3 linked regions of the Homo sapiens genome follow. The protein of the gene in region 3 purifies or fractionates together with the protein of the main gene of each other region. This does not show direct contact. Each region holds a gene or a part of one and is shown on either strand. Other genes may lie near its edges. The genes, in order: DPF2, BCL7A and ARID1A.

Evidence for each region.
Region 1: the proteins of ARID1A (region 3) and DPF2 purify together in Homo sapiens (affinity purification with mass spectrometry; 8 studies listed by BioGRID and IntAct, with this or other methods). This does not show direct contact.
Region 2: the proteins of ARID1A (region 3) and BCL7A purify together in Homo sapiens (affinity purification with mass spectrometry; 6 studies listed by BioGRID and IntAct, with this or other methods). This does not show direct contact.

Annotation. Positions count from the first base shown.
Region 1 is NC_000011.10:65,336,722-65,340,372, reverse strand, and holds part of DPF2 (zinc finger protein ubi-d4), read right to left. Parts: intron 1-3,651. UniProt on the Homo sapiens protein: Plays an active role in transcriptional regulation by binding modified histones H3 and H4. Is a negative regulator of myeloid differentiation of hematopoietic progenitor cells. Might also have a role in the development and maturation of lymphoid cells.
Region 2 is NC_000012.12:122,038,746-122,042,396, reverse strand, and holds part of BCL7A (B-cell CLL/lymphoma 7 protein family member A), read right to left. Parts: intron 1-3,651.
Region 3 is NC_000001.11:26,768,867-26,772,517, forward strand, and holds part of ARID1A (AT-rich interactive domain-containing protein 1A), read left to right. Parts: intron 1-2,252; coding exon 2,253-2,460; intron 2,461-3,633; coding exon 3,634-3,651. UniProt on the Homo sapiens protein: Involved in transcriptional activation and repression of select genes by chromatin remodeling (alteration of DNA-nucleosome topology).

The sequences.
Region 1 (3,651 bases), on a different chromosome or scaffold from region 3:
TAGAAATCAGGCGTGTATGTTGGAGCGGGGGGCATAGGGTGCTGAGCTATTCCTCTCCCCTGCCATCTGCTTCTCTAGAAGGCTCAAGGGACTGGGTGGCTGTCTCTTCCGTTCTATTTGCCTCCACTTCTGCCTCATGGGACACGAAGCCCCTTTTCTAGGCCATCATGAGGAATTACTTTACAAATAAATTACCATCAGGAACACATGATTTCATCATATGTCTAATCAGACTTAAGTTTAACCCCCAAAGAGGTGAAAGAATGTTCACTCCACGTGTCTCACAAGCCCACCCCTGTGCTAGTTAAGATGCTATTTCTCTTAACCCTTATGAGGCTAAGAAGCAGATGATAGTCCCTCCTAAGTTCCTCCTTATTCCCTCTTTCCTAGAATCACCTCCCAAATAAACTACATGCTCCCACATCCTTGCCCCAAGGTCTGCTCCAGAGGGAAAGAGTTCAAAGTCTAGGGGACTTATTAAAATGTATTTAGCAAACTATGGTAAATCCATACAATGAAATTCTACTTAGCCATAAGAAGGAAGCTCTTCACATACTGATATTAAACAATTTCAAGTTAACTAGGGACAAAAAGCAAAGCAAGGTACACTGCTGAGAAGCGTCAAATAAAACTATCATTTATGTAACAAAATGGAAAAGAAACTGCAGGTCAGCGGGGAGAAAAAGTGGGTGACTAGGCCACTTCCTTCCATATGCCTTTTTATATCTTTTGAATTTTGAACTAGGTTTTTAATCAACTAATTAATTTTACATTTATGGAAGATGTCTACAAGTACCTGAAGTTCCTTGAAGCTTTTATTGAGCACCATCACTCATAAGAAACTTGTTTGCTCTAAGGCCCATCTTAGGGTTCTTCTCCATTCTCACAAAATAAAATTATATAGGAAAAAATCTTCTTGGTCTCAAAAGACTCAATTTGAAATCTGAATCAAGGGTAAATCTTTAAGTGGAAAACTGGAAAACTGCACAGTGCCAGGAGTTATCTGGTTCTAAGAAGCGTGTATATAGAACCTATCTTGTTCTCATCTTGCAGGGTTTAACAAGGACTTTGGTAATGGAGGTTAACAAACTCGATCTTATATTCAATCAATCTTGTTTTTTTTTTTTTTTAAGAGACAAGGTCTCACTATGTTGCCCAAGCTGGACACAAACTCCTGGCTCAAGTGATCCTCCTGCCTTAGCCTCCCAAGTATCTGGGAATAGAGGCATGTGTCACAGTACCTGGCGTCAATCAATCTTAAACCAAGGGCAGAATTGATTTATTTCTCATAGTATCCCTAATACTCATGACGATGTCTGAGATACAGTCAGACTTGACTTGAGAGTAAAAAGACCTGGCTTGCCTGCAAGTCACACGAACATGGACACTTAGTCAGCCCAGGTGGACCTTGGTTACTCTTCTATAGATTGAGGAGGTTGGACCAAATGAGCTTTGACATATCAGGATTTTACAAGAAACAGCCTGGGGATGAGACAGCAAACAGATTAAGTCTCTGTGGTTTCTGTCCGTAACTCGGGCTACACCAACAAACCCTGCTCTAGAATGTGACAGGGTCCTTCAGTGAGCAGCCACAATAGACCACTGCATAACTTAGCATGTGCCCAGCAAGTAAAAAAGACACATACGACACACAGAGACGGCAATGCCACAAATATAGCCTGGCGTGATTCAATGAGCTGTAATGACTGTAATCTGAGGTAGGCACGAATCTCACGTTGGAGAGCAGAATGGAGAAGGCAGCCTTGCCTCTGTGGGCTCGCCTTTAGGAGGCAGCCACGTCTTCACCACACAGAATAAAATTGGATAAACAAGGTTGAGTGCGGCAGCTCCTTTGTTTCTGCTGATGGGAATTGATACGGACACTGGAAGTCAAATGGAAGGCAGGGCCAGGCTGGCGAGTGCTGCAAAGTCAGAGCAAGGAGGCTGGAAACAGTTTTGCGGGGAATGAATGAGAGATGTTCTGTCAGGGCTCTTGTGAGCTACATAAGGCAGGCAAACAGTCTTGGGGGTAAAAGGGCTGGGAAGGAAACACTGAAGTGTGGGGGGAGAATCTCATGAAGAGAGAACAAGACAGCATGACAGTGAGCTCTTAAGAACTTAAGGGAGGCCGGGCACAGTAGCTCATGCTTATAATCCCAGCACTTTGGGAGGCCAAGGCTGGTGGATCTCTTGAGACCAAGAGTTAGAGACCAGCTTGGGCAACATAGTGAGATCCCATCTCTACAAAACGTTAAAAAATAAAAATAAAAAAGGCCTGGCGCAGTGGCTCACGCCTGTAATCCCAGCACTTTGGGAGACTGAGGTGGACGGATCACCTGAGGTCAGGAGTTCGAGACCAGCCTCAACATGGAGAAACCCTGTCTCTACTAAAAATACAAAATTAGCCGGGCGTGGTGGTACATGACCATAATCCCAGCTACGGGGGAGGCTGAGGCAGAAGAATTGCTTGAACCTGGGAGGCGGAGGTTGCGGTGAGCCGAGATTGCGCCATTGCACTCCAGCCTGGGCAACAAGAGCGAAACTCTGTCTCAAAAAAAATAAAATTAAAAAAAACAAAACAAACAAACAAAAAAACCATCAGCTAGGCTTAGTGATGCATGCCTGTGGTTCCACGTAGCCCCTGGGGCGGATGAGGTAGGGGAATCATTTGAGCCTAGGAAGTTGAGGGTGCAGTAAACCAAGGTTATACCACTGCACTTCAGCCTGGGGGACAGAGGGAGGCTCTGTCTCTTAAAACAAAAAAAAGCAATAACAAAAACTTAAGGCTCCGATACCAAGAAATGTCAAGTTAACATTAACATTGTTCTCTCTCTCTCTCTCTCTCTCTCTCTCTCTCTCTCTCTCTCTATATATATATATATATATATATATATATATTTTTTTTTTTTTTTTTTTTTTTGAGATAGAGTCTTGCTTTGCCGCCCAGGTTAGAATGCAGTGGTGCAATCTCGGCTCACTGCAGCTTCTGCCTACTGCAGCTTCTGCCTCCCGGGTTCCAACGATTCTCTTGCCTCAGGCTCCCGAGTGGCATGCGCCACCACGCCCAGCTAATTTTTGTATTCTTAGTAGAGACAGGGTTTCACCATGTTGGCCAAGCTGGTCTCGAACTCCTGACCTCATGATCCGCCCACCTCGGCCTTCCAAAGTTCTGGGATTACAGGTGTAAGCCACCGCGCCCTGCCTCTAGATTTTGCCTAGAAAGTTTCAAAACCAATCAGCAGCTACAGCTATACTATTATTTTACTTTCCTAGTAAGAACGCTTAAAGACTTTCTCTCTTTTTTTGAGACGGAGTCTCGCTCTGTCGCCTGGGCTGGAGTGCAGTGGTGTGATCTCTCCTGGGTTCAAGCGATTCTTCTGCCTCAGCCTCCTGAGTAGCTGGGACTACAGGTGCACGCCACCATGCCCAGCTAATTTTTGTATTTTTACTAGAGACGGGTTTCACCACCTTGGCCAGGCTGGTCTCAAACTCCTGACCTTGTGATCCGCCCGCCTCAGCCTCCCAAAGTGCTGGGATTACAGGCATGAGCCACCGTGCCCGGCTTCTTTTTTTTTTTTTTTTTTTTTGAGATGGAGTCTTGCTGTTGCCAGGCTGGAGTGCAGTGGTGCGATCTTGGCTCACTGCAACCTC
Region 2 (3,651 bases), on a different chromosome or scaffold from region 3:
AGGTGTGAGCCATCACACCCGGCCACTAGCTGTGTATTTTTTATATGTGAATTATATTTTAATTACAAAAATCTAACACATTGAAAAAATAGATGAGACAAATGTGGCACCGTGTTCATGAAAATCAAGGTGGAGTGTACAGGGGGATCGTATTCCTCTCTCTACTGTTCTTGACAACAAAACCCTTCACAATACAAAGAAGAAAGAGAAGGGGTAATTGGGCAATGGCATTTACAGTTGGGCTGGGGGCAGAGCTGGGGCCCGGGCTGCACCTCCCCTTGTCCTGCACCCCCTTCTCAGGCACAGAGTCACTCTATTTATTTTTTTGAGATGGAGTCTGTCACCCAGGCTGGAGTGCGGTGGCGCGATCTCGGCTCACTATAATCTCCACCTCCTGGTTCAAGCGATTCTCATGCCTCAGCCTCCCAGGTAGCTGGGATTACAGGCATGCACCAACATGCCCAGTTAACTTTTGTTTTTATTATTTTTTAGTAGAGACGGGGTTTCGCCATGTTGGTCAGGCTTGCTCTTGAACTCCTGACCTCAGGTGATCTGCCCGCTTCAACCTCCCAAAGTGCTGGGATTACAGGAGTAAGCCACCACACCCAGCCATTTATGTATTTTTTATTTTTAGAGACAGGGTCTTGCTCTGTTGCCCAGGCTGGAGTACAGCAGCACAATCATAGCTCACTGCAGCCTCGAACTCCTAGGCTCAAGCCATCCTCCTGCCTCTGCCTCCTGAGTAGCTGGGGCCACAGGCATGTGCCACTGCATCTGGCTAATTTTTAAGTTTTTTGTAGAGATGGGGTCTCACTATGTTGCCCAGGCTGTCTTGGACCCCTGGGCTCAAGTGATCCTCCTGTCTTGGCCTCCCAAAGCACTGAGATCATAGGCCTGAGCCACTGTGCCCAACCTAGGAGAGTCGTTTTAAACAGCAGAGACCCAAGTGGAGGTTTCAAAACCAAAGCAGCCTTTCTGGGGGCCATGCTGCACCCGGGGCGATGGCCACTTTTGTAAACATGAGAAAGAGACAGAGACACCCCAACAGACCTGGGCACCTGCCACCATGCCAGGCACTGGGCAGAAGCATTTATGGACACCTCGTGGAATCCTCCCCACAACCCGTTGGAAAGGCACCGTTACCACCTTCACTTTCCGGAGGGGGAAACTGAGGCTGGGAGCAGCAGAGCCACTTGCCGGACCCATCTGCCCAACTCCCAGCCCCACGCCCCTCCTCTACCTCAACCTGCCGAGGAAGCACCAGGCAGTCAGGCGGCCCCACACGGGTAACCTGGATCTGATTTTAACTGTACTCTGGGGTGCTCGTTACACAAAAGCATCCTCTTGTGAATTCTGGGACTTAAAAAAAAAAAAGAAGGATGTGTGCTCCCCGATTTCTCCCTTGAGAAAAACTAGACTTCCTTCCTATGGCAAGCACACGCGCAAGAGGCTGGCCCCGTAGGTTCCTGAGGCTCTGTTAATGAATGACAATGAGCACTAATGTTTAACGTCTGGTCTAGCCTGGTAGCCTGGTAACAGCGTGACCCTGATACTTGGGCTAACTTCAGCTGAGTCTTGTGGACTAAAGGGCCCGGGGCACCGCCCTCTCCTTCATCCCCTGCTGTACCCATCCTCCCACTTGAAGCCTTCCAGAAAACTTGCCCGGCCCACACCTTTCCCTGACCTTCCCATTTACACACTCTGCAGTCTGACTGGCTTTCGGCTGCACGTGCACTAAAATGAAAATCAGAAAGTCAACAGGGCACCTGTGTCTGGGGACCTGGTTTGTTCAGCATCCTAGATTTTTCTGGAGAGTTTATCCAGGTCACAAATCTGGATCTTTTGGTTTTTTTTTTTTTTTTTTGGAGACACGGCCTCACTCTCTTGCCCAGGCTGGAGTGCAGTGGTGCAATCTTGGCTCACTGCAACCTCCCCTTCCCGATTCAAGGGATTTTCCTGCCTCAGCCTCCCGAGTAGCTGGGATTACAGGTGCCCACCACCATGCCCGGCTAATTTTTGTATTTTTAGTAGAGATGGGGTTTCACCATTGTTTGGCCAGGCTGCTCTCCAACTCCTGACCTTAAACGATCCTCACAACTTGGCCTCCCAAAGTCCTAGGATTATGGGTGTGAGCCACCACGGCCAGCCACAAACCTGGATTCTGTCTTCAAAGAACCAACCTCAAATGCCATCAATGGCACTGGAAGTTATGAACTTGCTAACCATGCATGTTACTTCACCTCACTGGGCCTTAGTTTCTCCATCTGTAAAATGCGGTTGGTTATTAGACTCAAATGAGGCAATGATGTAACGGGCTTAGCACAATACTTGGCACATTGTGACGGTTTCATAAATGTGAGCTGTTAACATGCCAAGGTTTTTAAAATTTTTATTATAGGCTGGGCACAGTGGATCATGCCTATACTCCCAGCACTTTGGGAGGTTGAGGGAGGAGGATTGCTTGAACTCAGGAGTTTGGAAACAGCCTGGGCAACATAGCAAGACCCTGTCTCTATTTTTGAATACAGTAAAATAATTTTTTTTTTTTATGGAGTCTTGCTCTGTCGCCCAGGCTGGAATGCAGTGGCATGATCTCAGCTCACTGCAACCTTTGCCTCCAGGTTCAAGTGATTCTCCTGCCTCAGCCTCCCAAGTAGCTGGGATTACAGGCGTGTGCCACCACACCCAATAATTTTTGTATTTTTAGTAGAGATGGGATTTTACCATAGAGACCAGGCTGGTCTCCAACTCCTGACTTCAAATGATCCTCCCATCTCGGCCTCCTAAAGTGCTGGGATGACAGGCATGAGCCACCACACCTGGCCCAAAATAAAATATTTACTATAATTATATTATATATTATATTATATAATATATATAATATATATATTATATATATATATATATTTAAGAGATGGGGTCTTGCTCTGTTGCCCAGAGTGGAATGCAGTGGTGCAATTACTGTTCACTGCAGCCTCCAACTCCCAGGTTCAAATGATCCTCAGCCTCCAGAGTAGCTGTGACTATAGGTGCGCATCACCACAACCTGCTAATTTAAATTTATTATTATTATTATTTTTTTTTTTAATCTATTTTTTTTTAGACTGAGTCTTGCTCTGTCGCCCAGGCTGTAGTGCAGTGGCGTGATCTTGGCTCACTGAAAGCTCCACCTCCCAGGTTCACGCCATTCTCTTGCCTCAGCCTCCCGAGTAGCTGGGACTACAGGCACCAGCCACCACGCCTGGCTAATTTTTTTGTATTTTTAGTAGAGATGGGGTTTCACCGTGTTAGCCAGGATGGTCTCGATCTCCCAACCTCATGATCTGCCCGCCTTGGCCTCCCAGAATGCTGGGACTATAGATACGAACCACCTATTGTTTTTTTTGTAGAGATGAGGTCTCCCTGTGTTGCCCAGGCTGGTCTCAAACTCCTGGGCTCAAGTGATCCTCCTAACTCGGCCTCCCAAAGTGCTGGGATTACAGGTGTGAGCCACTGTGCTTGGTCCCATGCCAAGGTTTTTAAGAGATTATTTAATTTAATCCTCACAGTGAGTTTATGAAGTAGGCATTACCATCCCCATTCTACAGATTAAAACTAAACAAACCCCAAAGCTAGAGGTTAAACAAATAGCCCAAGATCACACAGCCAGGG
Region 3 (3,651 bases):
GAGCTCGGGGAGGTGTGGCAGGGAGGGATTTATTCCAAACCTTCTAAATCAGAAGAGGAAAACAGCTGTCACCAGCAGAAAAGAAAGTGGTTGGAATGAAGCCAGCCAACAGTCAGTTATGAATTCCTTCTCCCTTCAGGCTTTATTCCCCTCCCCCACAAAGGAAAACAAAACAAAATAAGACACGTGCATACTGCCACATAACTGGCATGAGAAGCAAAGCCACGGAAGGCTTTTGAGGTGACTCCATGCATATTCCTGCCATTCTCCCTGATACTCAGATCTCATAGTCAAGCCTTCCCTGTCTATAGGGAAAGGGAGCATTGGGTTAGGTTTCGCTCACTTCTGATTGGGTGGGCTTCAGGGTTCACTGAACCTAGGATGAGGTACAGAGAGAATTCTAATGCCTGAGCCTGTCTTCCAGATTGGAAAAGGATGCAAACCTTTAAAATGCCGTGATTGTAACTGAACTTTTATAAAGGCAGTGATAATTCAGGGGCAAAAGAGTGCTATTTATAAGTTAGTTTGTGAAGGCTCCAAGAAAGCAAAGCTGAATCTTGAGCTTATCTAAAGGATTAGTAGGGTTTAGGTGGAAGAGTGGCCAATCCAGTAGACTGGCCTAGATGCCACGGAGATGGGAGAGAGTCTAGATATTTCCCACCAAGGCCATCTCCAACCATGAAGACTTAGCTCAGGTGTTACCCACTCTAAGAAGTATTCCTAGTCACCTCTGCCCCTCTAGGTTGTCCCCCTCTGTGCCTCTTTAAACTCTTCTTTCTAGTATCATAGGTATCATATCAGCAGACATTACAACCTATTGAACTTCCTTTGTGTATAGGGACTTGAAAACCCTTGTTCCCAGGCCTTGGGGGAACAGGCTTACCATATGGTAGATGAATAAGCATAAGAATACATGAAGAAGGAGACCTGTCCAGCTAGAGCAGAAAGACTAATTGTAGGGAGCATCTGGGGAATGGGCTTGGTCAGTGTGCCCTGAAGCTGAGGGAAGGAGGCAGAACTGTAGGTTGGCTGCTCGGGAGGTACAAAAGTCATAATAAGGCCCCGGGCCAGGCGCAGTGGCTCACACCTGTAATCCCAGCACTTTGGGAGGCCGAGACGGGCGGATCATCTGAGGTCAGGAGTTTGAGACCAGCCTGGCCAACATGGCCAAACCTTGTCTCTACTAAAAATATAAAAATCAGTGGGGTGTGGTGACAGGCACCTGTGGTCCCACTACTTGGGAGGCTAAGGCAGGAGAATCACTTGAACACGGGAGGCGGAGGTTGCAGTGAGCCGAAATGGCGTCACTACACTCGAGCCTGGGTGACAGAGTGAGACTCTGTCTCTAAATAAATAAGACCCTGAACACCCGGACCATCAGGACAGTGACTGGTAAGGGAAAGGGACCTGTGGTTATTTGTCAATGAGATATGTAGGGGAGCAGTGGCACAAGAATGTCAAATTTGCAGGGAGCCACCACCCCAAGAAAAAAATATGAGTAAATCCCAAGTTTGACAAAGCAAGTCAAGCAGGGTGGTCACTGATATTATCATGAGTCTCCATTTTATAAAATGTTAGTTTTTATTAGTGCATCTAAAATAGGATTTAGGGCCAGGCGCGGTGGCTCACGCCTGTAATCCCAACACTTTGGGAGGCTGAGGCGGGTAGATGACTTGACGCCAGGAGTTTGAGACCAGCCTGATCAACATGGTGAAACCCCGTCTCTACTAAAAATACAAAAATTAGCCAGGCGTGGTGGTGCACACCTGTAATCCCAGCTACTCGGGAGGCTGAGATAAGAGAATCGCTTGAGCCCGGGAGGCAGAGGTTACAGCGAGCCAAGATCACGCCACTGCACTCCAGCCTAGGCGACAGAGCGAGATTTATTTTTTCTGTCTCAAAAATAAATAAATAAAATAGGATTTAGATATCCAGATGATTTGTACACCACTTTTTAGCAGCGTACTAAAAAACCGGACTCTGAATTCTGTTCCAGTAGTAATGTGAAATTTGCCCTGTTGTGAATAAGCACAGTCTGATAGTTGCAGTGGAACATCCTGAGGGTAAAATGAAGCCAGCTGCAGATTTAACACTTCTTGTGGACTATCCACCAAGCAAGATTAACTTTTTCAATTACCTAAGAACTGTGGTTCTACAAAGATGAATACCTTACAGCCTGATGGGGCTTGGGGCTTATGGGCAGGAAAACCAGGCGGGAGATATACCTCGACTCCTTTGGTTTGGTTATACAGGTCAACAAGAACAAAAAATGGCGGGAACTTGCAACCAACCTCAATGTGGGCACATCAAGCAGTGCTGCCAGCTCCTTGAAAAAGCAGTATATCCAGTGTCTCTATGCCTTTGAATGCAAGATTGAACGGGGAGAAGACCCTCCCCCAGACATCTTTGCAGCTGCTGATTCCAAGAAGTCCCAGCCCAAGATCCAGCCTCCCTCTCCTGGTAAGGATGGGGTCAGCGGCCCCACCAAGGCTGAGAGGGCCTGTTGCCCTGGCCTCTTATTCAGGATATGAATAAGAGGCTTATCCAACAGGATATGCCAAGGATCTGTGCTCTGCCTTGCCCTACCACAGGGCTTAACAGGTTGGCTGACTAGAGAGTGGGCAGTGGAAACTCCCTTGGGAGGTACTCTACGGCAGCTCTTAAGTTTTAATTTTTGTTGTGCAGCTGACAACTTGCCAAATGTTTGTAAACTGGTGAATGGGAGGGGCACAAGAGGAGTCGGTGGAACTTATAAATGGCAGCAAGGCAGGGCCATCTGGGAGCTTTGGCCTATTGATGTCAGCACCTTAGAATGCAGCTCAGACTAGAGCCCTGAATTCCCCAGGGAGCTGAGATGGTAATGAATGGGAAGGAGGGAGTGGGGAAGGGTTATGAATGGAACTCCCTGATGGGAGTGGCTCTGCTCACCCTCCTTTCTGAGAGGAGGCTGAGGCCTAGGGTGAGCCTAGAGAGGGAAGAAGGCCAGGGTGCCTGGAAGGTGGGTGTAAACACATGTGCCCTGGTGTTGACCTCTGAGGGTGTAATGAGTGCCTGAGATGACTCATCAGCTGGGGAGGCCTCAGCAGTGGGATATCTACTGCTGGGAATGGTAACTATTGGAAACATTAATTACTAGTAGTTTTGTACTCATCAGCTTAGAAGAACATTTGAAGTTGAGGAGTGACACCATGCTGGATGCTTTAGAACAGGAGCTCCTAGACTCCTAAAATGCATCCCAGATTTGGGACCCCCTTCCCACCCAGGACTTGGGAGGCTCTGACTGGAGCTCATGCACCAGCATTACAGGGTTTAGTAGGTTAGACAAGGTCCTTTGGCGGAGTGAAGAGAAATAGCCAGGGAAGCTGGCAATGACTCAGGGAATCACCAGCATGGTGATGTCATGGCCACATCACTCCTCTTTTCTACACGTAAAACAAAAACAAAGAGCTACAAAACCCTCAGATTCCCGTCTTTATGACCTGGCCTTGTAGATCCTCTGCTAAGAAGGGTGATCAGGCTTTAAAGGCCTTAGGAAGAACTTTCCCAAAGAGATTCTGGGTCGTTCGTGTGTTTGTGTGAGAGTTAAACACTGTCATGCCAAGCAAACTACTCAACTTGTATCTCTGTCCACAGCGGGATCAGGATCTATGC